3 linked regions of the Homo sapiens genome follow. The protein of the gene in region 2 interacts with the protein of the main gene of each other region in a pairwise test. Each region holds a gene or a part of one and is shown on either strand. Other genes may lie near its edges.

What was found.
Region 1: the proteins of GEMIN2 (region 2) and MEOX1 interact in binary tests that used the Homo sapiens proteins (3 or more experiments, as listed by UniProt).
Region 3: the proteins of GEMIN2 (region 2) and KPNA6 interact in binary tests that used the Homo sapiens proteins (3 or more experiments, as listed by UniProt).

Annotation. Positions count from the first base shown.
Region 1 is NC_000017.11:43,655,245-43,658,994, reverse strand, and holds part of MEOX1 (homeobox protein MOX-1), read left to right. Parts: intron 1-3,750. UniProt on the Homo sapiens protein: Mesodermal transcription factor that plays a key role in somitogenesis and is specifically required for sclerotome development. Required for maintenance of the sclerotome polarity and formation of the cranio-cervical joints.
Region 2 is NC_000014.9:39,117,278-39,121,027, forward strand, and holds part of GEMIN2 (gem-associated protein 2), read left to right. Parts: intron 1-721; coding exon 722-811; intron 812-1,262; coding exon 1,263-1,322; intron 1,323-3,750. UniProt on the Homo sapiens protein: The SMN complex catalyzes the assembly of small nuclear ribonucleoproteins (snRNPs), the building blocks of the spliceosome, and thereby plays an important role in the splicing of cellular pre-mRNAs.
Region 3 is NC_000001.11:32,105,712-32,109,461, forward strand, and holds the start of KPNA6 (importin subunit alpha-7), read left to right. Parts: upstream 1-2,344; 5' UTR 2,345-2,419; coding exon 2,420-2,423; intron 2,424-3,750. UniProt on the Homo sapiens protein: Functions in nuclear protein import as an adapter protein for nuclear receptor KPNB1. Binds specifically and directly to substrates containing either a simple or bipartite NLS motif.

The sequences.
Region 1 (3,750 bases), on a different chromosome or scaffold from region 2:
AACGGCCTGCATGCTTCAGGGTCAGACTTTGGTGGAGGGAGGTTCCCATCCGCAGGGGCCCTGGGCTTCCCTAAGGGTCCCCTCAGGAGCACCAGCAGCAGATGAGGCAGGGCCCAGTGAGCTGACTCTCACTCATCCCCCTGTGATTCCAGACAAACTCACTGTTCAGCATGGAAATCTTTATTGCCGCAATGCTTGCATCCTCCTTTGGAATTTAACTGAAGGGGAGGAAGGAGGCAAGAAAGATCAGCTTTGTAAGAGCCCAAAGAAGGGGGAAAGTGACGCAAGGCTCATGACCTACTCCAGGAATCTGGAATTCAGCTCAGAAAAGGCAAACCCACAGAGAGCCCCCCACCCAACCCTGCCAATCCTGAGTCTATAATTGGATCCCCTCTCCAAAATTGTGATATTTTGTTCATTATCAATTTTTTGCATTACTTTTGATTTTTACAAATATTGCCTTAAAATATTCTTTTTTTTTTTTTTTTGAGATGGAGTCTCACTCTAACGCCCATGCTGGAGTGCAGTGGCATAGTTTCAATTCACTGCAACCTCTGCCCCTTGGGTTCAAGCAATTCTCCTGTCTCAGCCTCCTGAGTAGCTGGGATTATAGGCGCACGCCCCCTCTCCCGGCTAATTTTTGTATTTTTAGTAGAGTCGGGGTTTTACCATGTTGGTCAGGATGGTCTCAAACTCCTGACCTCGTGATCAGCCCACCTCGGCCTCCCAAAGTGCTGGCATGCGCCACCGTGCCCGGCCTTCCTTAAAATATTATTGATCTTGACTACAGAGGGGTTGGGCATGCCCTTGCATTTGGGCCTCCCCAAGTCCAGGCTGAGTGGTCCCTGGAAGGTTAACCAGCATTGATCAGAAACGCGTTTTCCATAGTTCTTCCCAGCCAGACAGACAGGCTGCAGTGTCAGCACGGCAACTTTTGGCTGCATGACTTTGGAAAAGTTCATAACTTCTTCCAGCCTTTGTTTCCCTGGCTGTAAAATGGGCATATAGCAGTAGCCCCTTCCATAGAGAGTCTCTCTGTGAAGGTTAGATGCAGTGATCCATGAGATTAACTCTGTGCCTGGCACATAGTAAGAGTTCAATAAATAGCAGCTGTAAATGGTATTAGGCCCATATTTCCTGAACCAGCCTTCAGAATATAAGGTCTGACAAATATTTCTATATTTATGGGGATGGTGGAATTGAATATTTCAATTATGCTGTCTCAGAAATTCCTGAGTCTAGAGAACTTCTGGCAATCATTTTGTTCCAGTTGTCATCAGGAGCATGGAGCTCAGAGACCTGCCGGAGAGGTTATGGGGTGAGTTGGGCCTGGCAAATGCACCCCATATTGAGTGGCTGAGAAGCCTCCAGAAATGGAAAGTTTATTGTAAGAGGAATGTTCTCTGCGCTTCCTTCCTCCTTTGCCATCTCCTTCAACTGCTCCCCGCTCACTCCCAGTAGAATCTGGAGCTGATCTACTCAAAGAAATTATCAAGAAAGCAAGGGTTGGCCGGGCGCGGTGGCTCATGCCTATAATCCCAGCACTTTGGGAGGCTGAGCCAGGCGGATCACCTGAGGCCAGGAGTTCAAGACTGACCTGGCCAACATGGTGAAACCCTATCTCTACTAAAAATACAAAAAAAAAAAAAAAAAATTAGCCAGGTGTGGTGGCAGGCACCTGTAAATCCCAGCTACTTGGGAAGCTGAGGCAGGAGAATAGCTTGAACTTGGGAGGTGGAGATTGCAGTGAGCAGAGATCACGCCACTGCACTTCATTCAGCCTGGGTGACAGAGCGGGACTACATCAAAAAAAAAAAAAAAAAAGAAAGAAAGAAAGAAAGAGAGAGAGAAAGGAAGAAAGGAAGGAAGGAAGGAGACAGAGAGAAAAAGAGAGAAAGAAAAAGAAAGAAAGAAAAGAAAGAAAGAAGGAAGGAAGGAAAGAAAGAAAGAAAGAAAGAAAGAAAGAAAGAAAGAAAGAAAGAGAAAGAAAGAAAGAAAAAGAAAGAAAGAAAATGAACAAACGGGGAGAAAGAAAGAAAGCAGGGTTCCTGGCCTTTGGCACTTCCCCACCCTGGAGACCAGCATGGTGTTATCTTACCCAAACCACTCCCAGCCCCAGGCCAATGGGGATTAAAGACCCCTGCTGGCAGGGACAGCTGTGAGGCCACTGTTGTTTTCCCCCAAACTGTCCTTGCTACTGTGGTTGTCTTTAATTTATGGGAATGAAGGATTTTGCGGTGGTTTCCTCATGGGGTTCAAGGGAAGGTTGCGTGTGATTAGAGTGGCTACAGGTGAATCCGATCGCCCGCCTGGGAAAGCCATGGTGCTAGAACTCAGCACTGCTCCCTCCTGCTCTCACGTCCTCACTCTGCTGAGACATGCCTTTAATCAGACGTGATTTGTCTCATCCTTCTTCAGCTCCAACACGTGTGTTCCCAGAGCTGTCCTGCCCCAATTTCTCTTTGCAAGACCTGCTCTATGCCTGCCTCCGCCCAACCACAAATTTGCCTAAGGTATAAAACTCCACAAATAGGCCTCTCTCCTCTTTTCCCTCCTGATGCCCCTTTACAGGCCACCTCCCCGCCCCAGGTCCCCTCCACTACCCCTGCCACGAAGCCACACCCAGGGACTGACCTTGCAAACACATCCTGCATTTTCTTCCCCCTCTCTGACTGTGCTCTGGTGGTTTCTCCTTGCCTAGAGCACTCTCCCCTTCCCCGTACTTCTGCCTGTTGAAGTCCTACTTAAAAACCACCCAGCTCAAAAACAACCCCTTCCAAGAATATTTTTGTTCTTCTTTTTCAAAAATTTATAGCTACATTTGCATATAACATAGTATCAAAGAAAGCTACAGTTAAGAAATGTCGAAGTCTAGTATCTGCTAGAATCTGTGTTGATTTTCTCACTTTAGCTTGCAGTTGTTTCATAAAGGAACTCTTCTGAGGTTTCTTACCTGGGACATCTTATATTTGAAATCTCCTTTTTTAAAAATTGGGGTCAAATACACATAACATAAAAGTTACCGTCTTAACAGTTTTTAAGTGATACAGTACAGTAGTTGTGCAATCGATTTCTAGAACTTTTAATCTTGCAAAACCGAAACTCTATCTCCATTAAACAACGACCTTTTTTCCCTTCCCCCACCCCCTAGCAATCACCATTCTTTCTCTTGCTAAACATTTGACTATTTTAGATACCTTACATAAGTGAAATCATGCAATGTTTGTCATTTTTGTGACTGGCTTATGTCACTTGGCATAATGTCCTCAAGTTTCAACCAGGTTGTAGCAAGTGACAGGATTTTCTTCTTTTTTTTTTTTTTTTTTTTTTTTTTAGAAAGACAGGGTCTTGCTATGCTGCCGAGGCAGGTGTTGAACTCAGGGCTTCTAGCAGTCCTCCCACCTTGGCCTCCCAAAGTGCTGGAATTATAGGTGTGAGCCACCATGCCTGGCCTCCTTCTTTCTGAAGACAATAACATTCCATTGTATGGATATACCAAATTTCTTTCTTCTTTTTTTTTTTTTTGAGACGGAGTCTCACTCTGTTGCCAGGCTGGAGTGCAGTGGCGCGATCTCGGCTCACTGCAACCTCCGCCTCCCGTATTCAAGTGATTCTCCTGCCTCAGCCTCCCAAGTAGCTGGGACTACAGGCACACGCCACCACGCCCAGCTAATTTTTGTATTTTTAATAGAGACGGGGTTTCACCATGTTGGCCAGGATAGTCTCAATTTCTTGACCTTGTGATCTGCC
Region 2 (3,750 bases):
AAAAAAAAGAAAACAGAAGTAGACAATTTAAAGTTAAGCGTCTTTAAGTACATTTTGCCCATACCAAAGTTCTTATTTTTAATTTTATTGATACATAATAATCATAATTTCATGCTTTATCACGCAGGCACAATAATAATTGTACATATTTATGGAGTATATGTGATATTTTGATACATGCATACAATGTATAATAATCAGTAATTAGGATAGCCATCACCTCATTTATCATTTCTTTCTTTTGGGAACATTCAAATCTTCTAGCTGTTTTGAAATATACAATAAATTATTGTTAACTGTAGTCACTCTACTGTGCTATTGAATGCTAGAACTCATTCCTTCTAACTGTATTTCATACCAGAATTCTTTATTTGTGGTATATCTCTCTTTTTGTTTCTGTTTTGCTATTCTAGAAAGGCAGGTAGGGCTAGATCATATTCTCCAGGCTCATGTCATTTAGATTTCATAGAAACTCCAACTATAAACCTTTCCAGATTTCTCTGATTAAGGTGACTAAGGCTCTTTCCCTAATATTTTTAACTGAGATATAAATAATAAAGTGAAATGCCTACTTTTTTACATCTGCAAAAATATTTTATTTTCTTGTATAATCTTTATTTTATTATACACTTTATCTTGGTTTTACTTTTGCTTTGCAGAGGCATGAGATTCTAGTTTTGACACTAATGTTGATCCTAATATTTGTGAACTTGATCTCTAGCTTTCAGGATGCCAACCCGCCCCTGAAGGTTATTCCCCAACACTTCAATGGCAACAGCAACAAGTGGCACAGTTTTCAACTGTTCGACAGGTAAGTGTCATATTTAATCTAATTAAGCCCCTGTTGGATTTATTTCTGTTCTTAGACTGTAGCTGGAAAAATAAAATTTATGATCCTAAAGTATACAGAATATTCATGAATTAATTACCAAATTATTTTTATAATCATTAGACATGATACAGTTTGAAATATTTTCTAAGTTTTGTTTATTTTTATTTGTTTGTTTATTTATTTCAATAGTTTTGGGGAACAGGTGGTTTTTGGTTACATGGATAAGTTCTTTAGTGGTGATTTCTGAGATTTTGGTGCACTTGTCACCCAAGTAGTGTACTCTGTACCCAATACATGGTCTTTTACATCTCACCCCCTCCCACCTTTCCCATTTTTCAAGTTTTAGATGGTTACAATTTTGTGCAGAAACTGATTTCAGTTATCCATTTTTTGAAGAGTACCATCTAATGTCTAAGTTTTCTTCCTTTAGAATGTGAACAAACATAGAAGTCACTGGAAATCACAACAGTTGGATAGTAATGTGACAATGGTATGTAAGTTTCTCAGTTTTAAGATGTACAATGTATACCTGATTGAAAGAGTCTATATTTACTTCCAGTCGTTAAAGATTCACTTGCCTAGTCAGTGTTACTTTCATTCTCTTCAATATACCATTAATAGTAACAATTCATTACATTAGTAGCCTGGAAAGTATAGATTTTCATGACAAATTTTTTTTTTTTTTTTTTTTGAGACAGGGTCTTGCTCTGTCTCCCAGGCTAGAGTGCAGTCATGGCTCACTGCAGCCTTGACCTCCTGGGCTCAAGTGATCCTCCCACCACCGCCTTCCAAGTAGCTCGAACTTAAGGCATATACCACCATGCCCAGCTAATTGTTAAAATTTTTTGTAGAGACAAGGTCTCCCTGTGTTACCCAGGCTGGTCTCTTACTCCTGGGCTCAAGTGATCCTCCTGCCCTAGCCTCCCCGAGTGCTGGATTACAGGCATGAGCTACTGTACCCAGCCTTTCATGTCAATTTTAATTCACAATATCTTGGGGGACTTTGGATAGGTGACTGTGAAACTTCCACAAGTTTTTAAGGATTCTTCTAGACATTTACTTTCTAGGAAATAAATACATTTTCAATATTTACAAAAAAAATTGAATAAAGCCTTAATGGATTTTCCTGATGAGGTGATGGTGCCATGCAGTAAACTCACATGTTTACAGAACTTGTGAATGGATTCTGCTTCTGCTTAATGTGATGAGTCTGTGTCACAATTCCAGTGACATATAAGTGAAACCTGTCATGTATATTGTCATGCATATGTCCTATATTTTATCAGTTTAGATATAACTTTAAGCCCTTTAGTAGATATATCAGGACTACCAAATGAAAAAAGGAGTTGGAAAGATGATACATTGTCTCAGGACAGTAGTTTTTAACCTTTTAGGGGACTTCATATTCTTTCGTAGAATCTAATGAAAGCTATTTATCTTCAGAGGGAAAAAAAATGCACCTATGCACAACATTTTAGTTTCAGGTAGTTCATAGATTTTAGATTTTAGAAGCTTCCTTTAGGCAGTGCTTCCTGATATCTTTTACATGGTGACACATTAGAATAAATGACTGCTTGCATATTCTTCCTGAAACCAGCCGAAAGCTGAGAGATTCAGTATATGGCATCTCTGTATGCTTCTGCATACCATTTGGAAGCTCTGCTCCAGGAAAAGCGTGAAGGGAAGTAACTTATCACTTGCCAATGGTCATTTAACTTGTAAAAGGTATAGCTAGTCCTTCTATCAAAGAAGCATGCGCACATAAACACACAAAAGGTATGCTTAAGGTTCAAACCCAAGTTGGTCTGTCTCTAAAGCCTGTGTGCCTTTGACTATGCAATGGTGCCTTCCTAGTACCAAGGATGTATGTATGTAGTAGGGACAGGGCTAGGTAGGTAAATATATTTTTTTTCTTACTTAGCGGAAGGCCTTTTGGGTGCATGCCCACTAACTAAAAAAGAAGCCACATCAGTAACATTATGACTTGATAAAATTTTGTCAAAAATGGAAATGACCTAACATAATTGATTCAATAAACTATGGTCCATCAGAACAGTGGAATATTATGTAGCAATTTTAAGTGTTTGTCATGGCAAATGCAAACATCATATAAGTAATAAAATGAAAATGTTTTAAAGTACACTCTGAGCCAGGCACAGTGGCTCATGCCTATAATCCCAGCACTTTGGGAGGCTGAGGTGGGCAGATCACCTGAGCTCAGGAGTTCGAGACCAGCCTGGGCAACATGGCAAAACCCTGTCTCTATTTAAATTATTTAAAAAATAAAGTACACTGTGATGGCAACTGTGTGAAAACATAAACATTTGTTTATTAATTGATCCAATAATTTAAGCATGTGCTATATTTAATAATCAGGATATTCAGTACTAACTGAAACAGAAACAGCTTCTGACCTAATAGAGTGTTAGGAAAAGGTAGATAACCTTATTCCAAGACAATAGGGTTTAACTTTGTAGTGGTCTCATGTTCATCGTGAGGTTTTATTTTATTTTATTTTATTTTATTTATTTTTTTGAGATGGAGTTTTGCTCTTGTTGCCCAGTCTGGAGTGCAGTGGCACAATCTTGGCTCACTGCAACCTCTGTCTCTTGGATTCAAGCAATTCTCCTGCCTCAGCCTCCCAAGTAGCTGGGATTACAGGTGCCTGCCACCACACCCAGCTAATTTTTGTATTTTTAGTAGAGACGGGGTTTCACCATATTTCCAGGCTAGTCTCGAACTCCTGACCTCAGGTGATTCATCCTAAGGATTTAATGAAAGCTACTTATCCCTAGGGGGAAAATGCACCTATGCAAAGTAATATACAAGGTGATATGTACAAACAAAGGTTATTTTGTTAAGGAGGTTATATTGAGCTGAATGCTTCTCCCAAATAGTCCTGCGTCCTGCTTTTTCTG
Region 3 (3,750 bases), on a different chromosome or scaffold from region 2:
TTTTTTTCTTTTTTTTTTTTTTTTTTAATGAGACAGGTTTCTCTGTGTTGCCCAGGCTGGTCTTGAACTCCTGGGCTCAAGCAATTCTCCCACCTCAGCCTTCCCAGTAGCTGAGATTATAGGTCTCTGCTTTTCAGGAGATAGTGGGTGGGAGCCGGAGAGTCTGGAGGCAGGAGGCCAGAGAGGAGGCAGGCAAAACAGAACAGGGCAAAGTGATGAGGTCTCACCTTAAGCAGGGGCAGTAGGAAGGGAAATAAAGTGCGCCCCTTCCTGACCTTCATCCTAGAGTTTTCCTTTTGATTTCTTTGCCTCAAGAAAATGGGCCAGGCGCACAACTAAAGTTGGCAGTTTGTTGTGACAGGCCCTTGTTCTGCTTCCAGAAGATAGATCCCTCTGTGTCTTGAAGATATAGCCTGGCTCTGTGTGTCGAGGTGGGGGACAGGAGGGCTGCCATGTCATGGAAAAAGAAAGGCCTGATATGTACTAGCCATACGTCCCGTGATTGAAAAGGCATATGAACAATAAAAGCCTCAATTTCCTCATCTCTAAAAGGGGAGATCATGTCCCTTGCTCTGTGTAACTCAATTTTTTGTTCATTCCTTTGTTTATTCATTCAATAGTTATTTATGGAGCACACACAATGTGCCAGATTCTGTGCTAGGTGCTGGAGATACGGTGGTAAACAATATAGAACCCACCCCTGCCTTCAAGGAGCTTGCTGTGAGGATAAATGAAATGATTATGAAATCACTCTGTTAACTATACTGCATGGGTCTCATTGTTTTTCTTTTTTTTTTTTAGAGACGGGGGATCTTGCTATGTTGCCCAGGCTGGTCTCGAACTCTTGGGCTCAAGCAATCTGCCGCCTCAGCCTCCTAAAATGCTGGGATTACAGGAATGAGCCACCATGTCCAGCCCATTTCTTTCTCTCTCTCTCTCTCTCTTTTTTTTTTTTTTAGAGACAGGGTCTCACTCTATCACCCAACCTGGAGTATAGTGACACAGTCATGGCACTGCAGCCTTGACCTCCCGGACTCAAGTGATCCTCTCGCCTCAGCCGCCCAAGTACAAGTGCTCATTACCATGCCTGGCTAATTTTTTTCTTTTAATTTATTTTTTGTGGAGATGGGGTCTCACTGTGTTGCCCAGTCTGGTCTTGAGCTCCTGGCCTCAAGTGATTCTCTGGCCTCAGCTTCCCAAAGTGTTAGGATTATAGACAAGCGTGAACCACCACACCCAGCCCTATTTTTCTATTTCTCATCTCCCAATAAGATTGCAACCTCAACTAGGGCTACCTACGTAGGCCTAATCAGAAAACCTGAGTTTAGTCTTACTTCTTTGTTTCCTTCTCTCCATAGCCTCATTGAGCAAGGCACTTCCCCTCTCTAGATGATTCGTTGTTCATATTCAGCCCAAGGTCTATGATTGCTGTTTTTGTTTTTAGAGACGGAGTTTTGCTCTTGTCTCCCAGGCTGGAATGCAGTGGCACAATCTCGGCTCACTGCAACCTCTGCCTCCCGGGTTAAAGCAATTCTCCTGCCTCAGCCTCCCAAGTAGATTACAGGCATGCGCCACCACACCCAGCTAATTTTTGTATTTTTAGTAGAGACCATGGGCAGGCTGGTCTCGAACTCCTGATCTCAGGTGATCCGCCCGCCTCGGCCTACCCAAAGTGCTGGGATTACAGGCGTGAGCCACAGCGCCCAGCCGATTGGTTTCAACTATTAGAAGAAGGGATAAACTGGCCCGGAGCGGTGGCTCAAGCCTGTAATCCCAGCACTTTGGGGGCGGGCGGATCACCTGAGGTAAGGAGTTCAAGACCAGCCTAGCCAACATGGTTGAAACACCGTCTCTAGTAAAAATACAAAAATTAGCCAGGCGTGGTGGCAGGCGCCTGTAATCCCAGCTACTCGGGGGGCCGAGGCAGGAGAATCGCTTGAACTCGGGAGGCAGAGTGTGCAGTGAGCCGAGATCGCGCCATCGCACTCCAGCCTGGGGGGACAAGAGCGAGACTGCGTCTCAAAAAAAAAAAAAAAAAAAAAAAAAAAAAAAGGAGGGATAAGCTTCTGGGAGAAAAAGTTCCGGGTAAAGAAATCTCACTATAAAAAAGAAATAGTAGCAGAAACAGCTGGGAACTCCTAGACACACTTAACTTTCTTAGGTATCCCTTCCAGTCTCCTCCCAACCACTCCTTTCCTATTTCATTTCCACTCCCCACCTTTAGTAGCTGCGGTCTCTTTAAGTGCGCACTTTCGGTGTAATGATAGGCGATTGGGCCAATAAAGCGTTTCGTCCTGGAGTTAACTGGTTTGTCCCTTTCGGGCTGCCGTCCTACAGATCCGCCATATTGTCTACTGAAAGCTGCCGCTGAAGCTGCCGCCGTTGCCTCCGCCGCCAAGAGTGAGCGAGCGGACCCGCGATGGGTGAGTGAGGAAACCACGCAGTAGGGTTCTTGGGCTCAGGGAGTGTCGGGGCCTGGGATTTGGCGAGAGCCTGTCTCCGGTCTGCGGAAGATGTCTGCATCCCCTCTAGCTAGGTCTGAGGGGAAAAGTCAGGCCGGGAGTGCCCCTCTTGCCAGTTTTGGGCCGAGCTAGGGCCCGTGCTGGAAGCAGTCCTTTGGTGCTGGTTTCGGGGACACCTTGGCACGCCTGGAGCCCCCCACATGGTGGCCTCGGGCAGGAGCCCACGTGTTCCTGGGAGGTAGAAAGGGGCCTACTCTCTGTCCTGCGCCCAGACTGGGGCTGGGGGACGGGCTCCCGGCGGCAGGCCTGGGCGGCGCTAAGGTAGCTTTCTCCTGGGTTGTGTTTGGCCAACGCGTGTCTTGACTAGATTCAGTGGCTCCCCTGAACTCAGGGAAGTCCTACCTACGTAGCGAGGTGGAGTCCTCTAGTGAGGGGACGTCAGGCGAGCCAGCACTAGGCCGGTAAGCATGGGCAGCCAGGCCGAGGGCAGCTTGCGCCGCTGAAGGCCGGGAGAACGGAATCAAGGCGGAAATAGTGTGGTTCGGTTGGGCTCAGAGTGGCATCGCTTGTGATGGTAGAACACCAAAGGCCAAGTCCTCTTGGCCATCTTTAGGTTGAGGACTTTAGGTTTCTGGGCTGGCCCTGGTAAGGAGAAAAGGAGCGACCTGTTGATCTTTCTGAGGGGACTCCGGCTGGCAAGGCCTCTGTTCAGAGAGAATACCATGGCGAAGTCTTTGGATTTAGAGACAGAACCAACAGTGGTAATTCCTCTAAAGCAGTAAAAATTGTGAAATTTGCTAAGCTCTTTCTACGTACGGGCATTGTTCTGATTGCTTTACATGTCTTGTTTTACTTAATTTGTACAACCTAAGGAAATAGATGCTACCATTGCCATTTTACAGATGTGGAAGCTGAGCTTTAGAGAGGTAAAGTAACTTACCCAAGGTCATGCAGTGGCTAAGCCAGGGTGAACACTCCCAAGCCTAGTTTGTAACTGCTGTTTGTTGTTGTTGTTGATAGAGTCTTGCTCTGTCGCCCAGGCTGGAGTGCAGTGACGCGATCTCGGCTCACTGCAACCTCCTGCCTCCCGGGTTCAAGCGATTCTCCTGCCTCAGCCTCCCGAGTAGCTGGGATTACAGGCACCCACCACCACGCCCGGCTGATTTTTGTGTGTTTTTGGTAGAGACAGGGTTTCGTCATGTTGGCCAGGCTGGTCTCGAACCCCTGACCTCAAGTGATTCGCCTGCCTCGGCCTCCCAAAGTGCTGGGATTACAGGTGTGAGCCACT